Regions from separate parts of the Homo sapiens genome. Here region 1 is reported to be linked to region 2. Evidence: microRNA targets listed by miRTarBase, many of them from high-throughput screens and not tested one by one. Region 2 holds a microRNA gene; the other region holds the end of a gene's coding sequence. Distances are from middle to middle.
The links. The annotated mature microRNA hsa-miR-3908 reads GAGCAAUGUAGGUAGACUGUUU and lies in region 2 at 2,097-2,118, shown strand. An mRNA with a match to its seed (bases 2 to 7 or 8) in the 3' UTR can be bound and repressed. Matches are read on the target gene's strand: a 7mer-m8 pairs with bases 2 to 8, a 7mer-A1 pairs with bases 2 to 7 and ends in A, and an 8mer does both.

Region 1 (4,394 bases), 12 Mb from region 2:
TTTTTCTACCTTATATAACTTACAACAAAGGGTACTTGAAAGAGTAATGATGCTAAAGCAATAGGGTTTCCATGAAGAATCACATCGAAAAATACCCATTCGTGATGACCTTTTGCCTTCTTTGCATTTTATGCAATTGAAAATGACCCACTGTGTTCTGATGGAGCTTGCAATGAGACCAAAGGTAATGGCAGCTTTAACTTTTATCTGAGAACTAGAATCTGGGGGGATGGTTTTTAAACAAGACTAATTATTCTTGTCTCCTCCTTTATAGGAAGAGAGAAAATTTTCAAAGACTGTGCAAGGGAAGGTGCAGAGCAGTTATCTGCACTCACTTCTGGAAATGGGGGAGCTGCTGAAAAAAAGACTTGAGACCACAAAGAAACTAAAAATTTAAGGAAGTATCTATCATGGGCACTGATGACTCTGCAACAGAATATGACACCATCTTCCCAGGCAAAAGCAACATCTGGTTGACCATGATTTTAATCCAGAACTTCCTCATAAAATGCATGAAGGACTTTGATCGTGAATTTTTTTAGGTGTTAAATATATACAACTGATTAAATTATTGTATATAAACCAGAAGCGGGACCCTCATCTGGGTTTGACCACTTTTTATACATGTTCATATGCATATGGCAGCAACAAGAGAACCCTACTTTTCTTCTTCCCATCACCAGAAACATCTTTTCAGGGGAGCGGGGGGTCTATAAAAACAGCAATAGAAATTAAGCATAAAGCATCAACCTCATAGCAACTGAATAGCCCTTCCATTATAAATAACATTGAGAGTTTTTGGTCTGGTCCTTGAGCCACAAGAAGTGGAGGGGAGACCATGCCTGGGAACAGACCCCCTTTTCACAGCAGTAAGTTTGTTTTGAGGCTTTCTCAGCTACTTGGCTCCCACAGAACCCAAGGCAGGTACACAAAGGACCTTAGATGAGATCTGGCATATGCACCCGCAATAGAAGGGCACCACTTGGATGACCACAGGCACTTAGTTTTTGGCTAGTTTTTGTCTGATAGTTAAGACATCCCCATCCTAGCTTCTGTGAGAGTTAAAAATCTCAGGTAAGAAGGCAAGGAAGGCTCTGTTAATTTATAGCTGTTTAGAGGGGAAAGCAGTGCAGACCACTTATTAAGCCCGCTGAGGACTAGCTTTCTGTCTTTCATACATTTGGGAAAGATAGGAATGACTGTTTCAAAGAAGAGAGGTGCACATAATTTATGCAGGCAAGTATGATACTTATTTCATTGGTTTTGTGAGTCATATATATACATATATATATATACACATATATATATGACTTGAAAATTAAGATTTAATACTTTAATGTTTTAAGTGTGGGGGGTTTGGGAAGGAAGGAATGTAATATTATGGATTTAGCCTTAGGCTTTAAGTTTTAGGCTGGCAAAAGAAATGTTATTCAGTGGGTTTGAGGTTTGGACTACTTTCTTCAAACTTAGAGAATTATAACAGGATGGTGTTTACTTTGTTCACCTGGATGTCCCCAAGACTCTAGCTTCTTCTATCAGTGGTTGGTCTGATAGAAGAGGTAAAAATTGCTCTTGAAAATGTCCTACAATTTATGCAGTTTCTTTGATAATATTTTTCTGTTTAAATCCCTGCTTCTGTTTTTGGTCTGTTACCTAAATATAGTTCAAGTTTAATTCTGTAAGAGCAAAGAAATGAATTTGATGAGGAAATTAAGCATCCAATGGAGGATTGGTCTTGAAGACCTTAAAGGTGCTTTCCAACCTGCACTGCTCCAGTGAAATGTGGTACTTTTTTCTTTTAAAAGCAACCAAGAGAGCTGGGAATATCTGTGTACGCAAAGTAATTGCATTTTGTCCCTTCATTTTGACTTTCTTAGATTCATAATTTGATACAGTGCTTAAACTTCCAAGGAAATTTTAAACAATTACTACATTACCTGTTCAAAATAAGGCTTGTTGGAAATCCTAGTCCATCAACTAATTTCAAAAATTTATTTTTGATATGAGTAGCAACAGCTGGTCATATACCCTATCCCAAAAGGAAGAACTGTCTTGAACAAGATGAATGGAAAATTGTGGTTAATTCTGAATTTCATGTAATGACAACATATTCTTTCATAAAACTATGGCCTGTTTAAGATGGAACTTTGTGTGTGTCTGCTGGGGAGGGTGGGGTACATGTGTATGGCGTGTGTTCTTGAAATGATGTCTCTCTGAATATCCAAAAAAGTACTGTACTGTAGAAATGCTCTTTGAAAAAGTCTATCGACTGACCATGATCAATCTAGCATATGTATGTTCAGTGGGCTAGCCTTGGTCCTCAGGGACAGTGTGTGACTCTAGTGGTCTTCCTAACCAGTCTCTTGCCTAAAGATATCTGGGACCTCTACTGGCTTTAATGACAAATAATGTTATGTTGAGGTTATGCTTCCTTTGTTATTTGCTGATTTTCCTACTAAATGTAGCATTTCAATTAGATCCAGCTTTCACATTTTGAGATAATTGTAAAAAGAATGAAATTATGCAGAAATGGCCAATATCTCTTATCAATCTGTTCTTTTGGAAACCCTCATGTACTATAAATTGTGTACAGTTAAAAAAATATATATATATATATATTCTTACATGAGTAAAAAGCACCCTCTCCCAGCAATCGTATGCCATTGGTATTTGAAGAGAATTCCCAAATAACCCATTGCTGCTGCTGCTGTTTTTGATTTGTATGGGTTTTTTTGTTTTGTTTGTTTTTGTGTGGTAAACTGATATTTAAAAAAGGAAAGGAGAAAAATCACGACTACTGTTTACAGACTGAAAAATTATTGCTTTTTATACTACTGAGATCCTAAGTTAAGACTCTCCAAAGCAAACATTTGGTTTAAATCATTTATCTGATGTAGATAAAAGGTAGAGAAACTTGTAGTGTTCTCCACATAATGGAAAATGTACAAATGCCTAGTTGTGTTGCCCATCAATTTTGTATATTTTCATAATTTTAATTGTTGAAAATTGCATTATATTTTGCAATCACTATGTTCAATCTGGATTTGTCTTTCATTTTAACTTTTAATATAAAAAGGGGTTTCAATGTATCTACAGGCTTGTTATTGAAACTTCCTACTTATTTGATGTGATTTATTAATATAGGAAGTATATATTCTTCCTTAAGTAAGTGAAGCATAGCAAATCTACTTTAAACTGGATGGGTTAATTTATATAAACATTTTCATTTTAAGTTGGCATTTCTGCCTGGTTCCTTTTTGTTCAGATTCTTAGAAGCCACAACCTTCTGAATGGTGTAATTCATCTCAGTTGTGAATTTAGGGCTATATCCCAACATATTTTTAATATTTGAGAATTTAGAATTTTTATTTGAAGTCAGCTAGTCCTTTTGACTCAAAAGTTAGTACCTTCTGTACTTGCAGTTATTAATTCAACATATATGTATTGAACACTTAAATTAGCATATAGCAGATTCCACTTTAGGCTCTGGTGAGACCCTGTGTCCTAGTTAGTAAGTGAGTAACATATATCCTAGTTAGTGGCTGTGAGGTGGGGAAGAGGCAATAAAAATATTAGTTTGTAATTACATCCTGCTTAATAATGTAAATCACAGTATGTGAATTGAGTGTGTCTAGAGGGTCACTTCAGAATGGGTCACAGGAGGACCTCCTAAGTGGTGACCTCTGATCTGAATGATGAACTGTCAGGAAAAAAGTAACACACATGCAAATGCCCCAAGGCAGGAAACTGCTGAGCCGGTTCCAGGAAGTGAAAAAATGTTCAAGTGGCTGGGACTTAATGAAAGGGGTAGGATTGAGATAGAAAGTTGAGTAGGGATGAGAGCCATCAGGACTTAGTAGTCCGGGGAAGGAATGAGATTTTATTCTAAATTTAGTGGGAAGTTACCAGAGGATTTCAGGCAGGCTGATGACATGATTTATCCAAGGGTACTCGAACCCACAAGCTGGGATTCGGAACTTATTCAGGTACATTGACAACACAGTGAAAGTAGGAACTTAGCTCTTTTTTACTTTCTGTCCTGTGATATTGTCTTGTATGAGCCCCAAAGAGTCAGTTTTTGCCTGTTTCTTCAGTTATGAATTAACTCCATCCCAAGGTTTTTCTTTTATTTTTTTGAGACGGAGTCTCGCTCTGTCGCCAGGCTGGAGTGCAGTGGCACGATCTTGGTTCACCAGTCTCGGCCTCCTGGGTTCAAGTGATTCTCCTGCCTCAGCCTCCCGAGTAGCTGGGATTACAGGCGTGTGGCACCACACCCAGCTAATTTTTGTATTTTTAGTAGAGACGGGGTTTCACCATGTTGGCCAGGATGGTCTCGAACTCCTGACCTCGTGATCTGCCCACCTCAGCCTCCCAAGGTTTTTCTTTAGCAAAAG
Region 2 (4,394 bases):
ACGGGGACCCCCCCCGGCCCGCAGACACTCCGCGCAGACCCGGCCACCAGGCGGACTTGCAGAGGCGCCCGGAGAGGGGCCGACGTGTCGAGGAATGCTGGATCCCCGGAGCCCCAGGGCGCGCCTCCCCGAGCCACATCCATCACTGGCTCCTTGTGACATGAACGCCACTTCACAGTAGAGCGAAGCCCGCTTGGCATTCCAGCACCACGAGTTCTCTTGTCCCAAGGCCCCCTGTCCATTTGGGCTGGCCAAATCCACTTGTCCATCAGACCCCCTCCCACTCCCGGGAGAACGTTTCCTGAACCCAGAACCCCATCCACCCTCCCCGCCCCCCACGCAGGAGTTAAGGACCCCCTTGCAAACTCACAGTCCCCTGCTTGCCCCATCAGGATTGCTCTTAGCATCCTGAGTTTTCACCGTGTGGTTGCAGGTAGGTTTCCACCGTCAGATCTTGGCTCCTTGAGGGAAGAAATCTTAATGCCCTTGTAGCCATAAAGCGCACCCCAACGTGGCACGTATTGATTAAAAATCTAAAAGTTGGCCGGGCGCGGTGGCTCACGCCTGTAATCCCAGCACTTTGGGAGACTGAGGTGGACGAGGTCAGGAGTTCAAGACCAGCCTAGCCAAGGTGGTGAAACCCCGTCTCTACTAAAAATACAAAAATTAGCCGGGCATGGTGGCGCATGCCTGTAATCCCAGCTACTCAGGAGGCTGAGGCAGAGAGTTGCTTAAACCCGGGAGGCGGAGGTTGCAGCAAGCCGAAATCGCGCCACTGCACTGCAGGCTGGGTGACAGAGCAAGACTCCATCTCAAAATAATAATATAATACAATAAATAAATAAATAAATAGTAAAAAAAAAAAAATTAAGGCCAGGCGGGGTGGCTCACGCCTGTAATCCCAGCACTTTGGGAGGCCGAGGTGGGAAAATTTCTAGAGCTCAGGAGTTCGAGACCAGCCTGGCCAACATGGTGAAACCACGCCTCTACTAAAAATACAAAAATTAGCCAGACATGGTGGCATGTGCCTGTAATCCCAGCTACTCAAGAGGCTGAGGCGCGAGAATCATTTGAGCCTGGGAGGCAGAGGTTGCAGTGAGCCAAGATCGTGCCACTGCACTCCAGCTTGGGCAACAAGAGCGAAACTCCGTCTCAAAAAAAAAAAAGAAAAAAAAAAAAGTAAAATAAAAAAATTAGCCAGACGTGGTGGTGAGAGCCTGTAGTCCCAGGTATTTGGGAGGCTGAGGTGGGAAGATCCCTTGAGCCTGGGAGGCAGAGGTTGCAGTGAGTTGAGATCACACCACTATGCTCCAAACTGGGCGACAGAGCGAAACTCTGTCTCAGAAAAATAAAAAATAAAAATAAATACTCCTGGCCACAGTGGCTCATGCTTGTAATCCTAGCACTTTGGGAGGCCAGGGCTGGAGGATCACTTGAGCCCAAGATTTCGAGACCAGCCTGGGCAGCATGGCAAAACCCCGTCTCTATTTAAAAAAAAGTCTGGTTGCAGTGACTTATGCCTGTAATCCCAGCACTTTGGGAGGCCAAGGGGGGCAGATCAGTTGAGGTCAGGAGTTCAAGATCAGCCTGGCCAACATGGTGAAACCTCATCTCTACTAAAAATACAAAAAAAAAAAAAAATTAGCCAGGCGTGGTGGCAGGCGCCTGTAATCCCAGCTACTCAGGAGGCTGAGGCAGGAGGATCACTTGAACCCGGGAGGCAGAGGTTGCAGTGAGCTGAGATCGAGATCGTGCCACTGCACTCCAGCCTGGGTGACAAAGCGAGACTCTGTCTCAAAATAAATAAATAAATAAATTAATTAATTAATTAAATAAAAATTACCCGACTCTGGTGGCAAGTGCCTGTAGTCCCAGCTACTCGGGAGACTGAGGTGGAAGGATGACTTGAGTCCCAGGGAGCAGAGGTTGCAGTGAGCTGTGATTACACCACTGCACTCCAACCTGGGTGACATAGGGAGACCCTGTCTCAAAAACAACAAAAAAACTCATACGTTATCTAGCACGGTGGCGTGAGCCTGTAGTTCCAGCTACTCCAGTGGGAGGATCCCTTGAGTTCAAGAGTTCTAGTCTAGCCTGAGCAATGTAGGTAGACTGTTTCTAAAAAAATAAAAAGTTAAAAAAATTTATGTTAACGTGTAATGTGTTTACTAATTTTTTTTTTTTTTTTTGGAGACAGAGTCTCCCTCTGTCGCCAGGCTAGAGTGCAGTGGCTCGATCTCAGCTCGCTGCAGCTTCGACCTCCCAGGTTCAAGCAATTTCCCTGCCTCAGCCCCCAAGTAGCTAGGATTACAGGCGCATGCCACCATGCCTGGCCGATTTTTTTGTATTTTTAGTAGAGAGGGGGTTTCACCATGTTAGCCAGACTGATCTCGAACTCCTGACCTCAGGCAATCTGCCTGCCTCAGCCTCCCAAAGTGCTGGGATTACAGGCATAAGCCATCCTCCCGGACTATTTTTTAATTAATATTTTTTAAAGCATCAGTTTAAATTTCTTTTCTTTTCTTTTCTTTTTCTTCTTCTTCCCTTCCCTCCCCTCCCCTCCCCTTTCTTTCTTCCTTTCCTTTCCTTTCCTTTCTCTTTCTTTCTTTCTTTCTTTCTTTCTTTCTTTCTTTCTTTCCTTTCTCTCTCTTTCTCTCTCCCTCCCTCCCTCCCTCCCTCCCTCCCTCCCTCCCTCTCTCTCTCTTTCTTTCTTTCTTTCTTTTCAGGGTCTAGTTCTGTTGCCCAAGGTAGTGCAGTGGTGCGATCGTAGCTCACTGCAGCCTCAAACTCCTGGGCTCAAGCGGTCCTCCCACTTCAGCCTCCTGAGTTAGCTGGGATTATAAATTTCTATTTACAGTAGATATGAGCAGATATAACTCACCTAACAAAAGCTCTTTCAAGGCTAGACACAGTGGCTTACGCCTGTAATCCTAGCACTTTGGGAGGCTGAGGTGGGCGGATCACCTCAGATCGGGAGTTTGAGACCAGCCTGCCCAACATGGTGAAATCCTGTCTCTACTAAAAATATAAAAATTAGCCGGTGTGTGGCCCGTGCCTGTAATACGAGCTACTAGGGAGGCTGAGGCACGAGAATTCCTTGAACTCAGGAGACGGAGGTTGCAGTGAGCCAAGGTCATGCCTCTTCACTCCAGCCTGGGCAACAGAGTGAGACTCTGTCTCAAAAAAACAAACAAAAAAAAACAAAAACAAACAAACAAACAAAAACTCTTTAAATATTGTTTTAGTGTAAAGGGGCTCTGAGGCCAAAAAGTTTCAGAACTTCTGCCTTATAACATCCTAAGAGGTAAATTTTATTATCTTATTTTACAAATGAGGAAACTGAGGCACAGAGAGGTTAAAAGGCTCACCCAAAGCCAGGCAGCTGGTGAAGGTAAATTCAGGGTCAGACCTGCGCAGTCTGGCCTCGAGTCTGTGCCATAACCTTCTCATCCTTGTTCCTTACACGTGCTAAGCACTCTAAACCTTCTGGATCCTTCCAACAACCCAAATGAAGCTGACATATTATTGCTGTCCCCTTTCTTTTCTTTTTTCTTTTATTGAGACGGATTCTCGCTCTGTCACCCAGGCTGGAGTGCGGTGGCAAAATCTCAGCTCACTTCAATCTCTGCCTCCCAGGTTCAAGCAATTCTCCTGCCTCAGCCTCCTTAGTAGCTGGGACTACAGGCACCTGACACCATGCCCAGCTAATTTTTGTATTTTTAGTAGATACAAAGGTTCACCATGTTGGCCAGGCTGGTCTCGAACTCCTGACCTCAGGTGATCCACCCACGTTGGCCTCCCAAAGTGCTGGGATTACAGTGTGAGCCACTGTGCCTGGCCAGTGCTGTCCCCTTTTTCTTCTTCTTCTTTTTTTTTTTTTTTTTTTTTTGAGATTGAGTCTAGCTGTGTTGTCAGGCTGGAGTGCAGTGGCGTGATCTCGGCTCACTGCAGCCTCTGCCTCCAGGGTTCAAGCGATTCTCCTGCCTCAGCCTCCCAAGTAGCTGGGACTACAGGCATGTGCCACTACACTTGGCTAATTTTTGTATTTTTAGTAGAGATGGGGTTTCATCATGTTGGCCAGGATGGTCTCGATCTCTTGACCTCGTGATCTGCCCCCCTCGGCCTCCCAAAGTGCTGGGATTACAGGTGTGAGCCACGCCTGGCCTTGCTGTCCACTTTCTAAGTTAAAGACAGGGAGGCAGGGAAAGGTGTGCTGATTTCCTGTAGCTACTATAACGAATTGCCACAAACTTGGTGACTTGAAACAAAACTAGCTGGGCATAGTGGCTCACGCCTGTAATCCCAACACTTTCGGAGGTGGAAGAGGGAGGATCACTTGAGCCCAGGAGTTGGAGACCAGCCTGGGCAGTGTAGTGAGACTCGATCTCTATAAA

Region 1: miRTarBase lists NAA25 as a target of hsa-miR-3908. Seed matches in the 3' UTR shown: 7mer-m8 at 2,694-2,700.

Annotation. Positions count from the first base shown.
Region 1 is chr12:112,025,534-112,029,927 of GRCh38, reverse strand. NAA25 (N-alpha-acetyltransferase 25, NatB auxiliary subunit) reads left to right here. Exons shown (of 24, transcript NM_024953.4): 24 at 275-3,239. The coding sequence ends at 397. Among named protein-coding and RNA genes, the nearest start is that of MIR3657, 10 kb to the left of the region's middle.
Region 2 is chr12:123,534,317-123,538,710 of GRCh38, forward strand. MIR3908 (microRNA 3908) reads left to right here and starts at 2,093; the gene lies at 2,093-2,218. RefSeq lists silencers at 1-126, 146-331.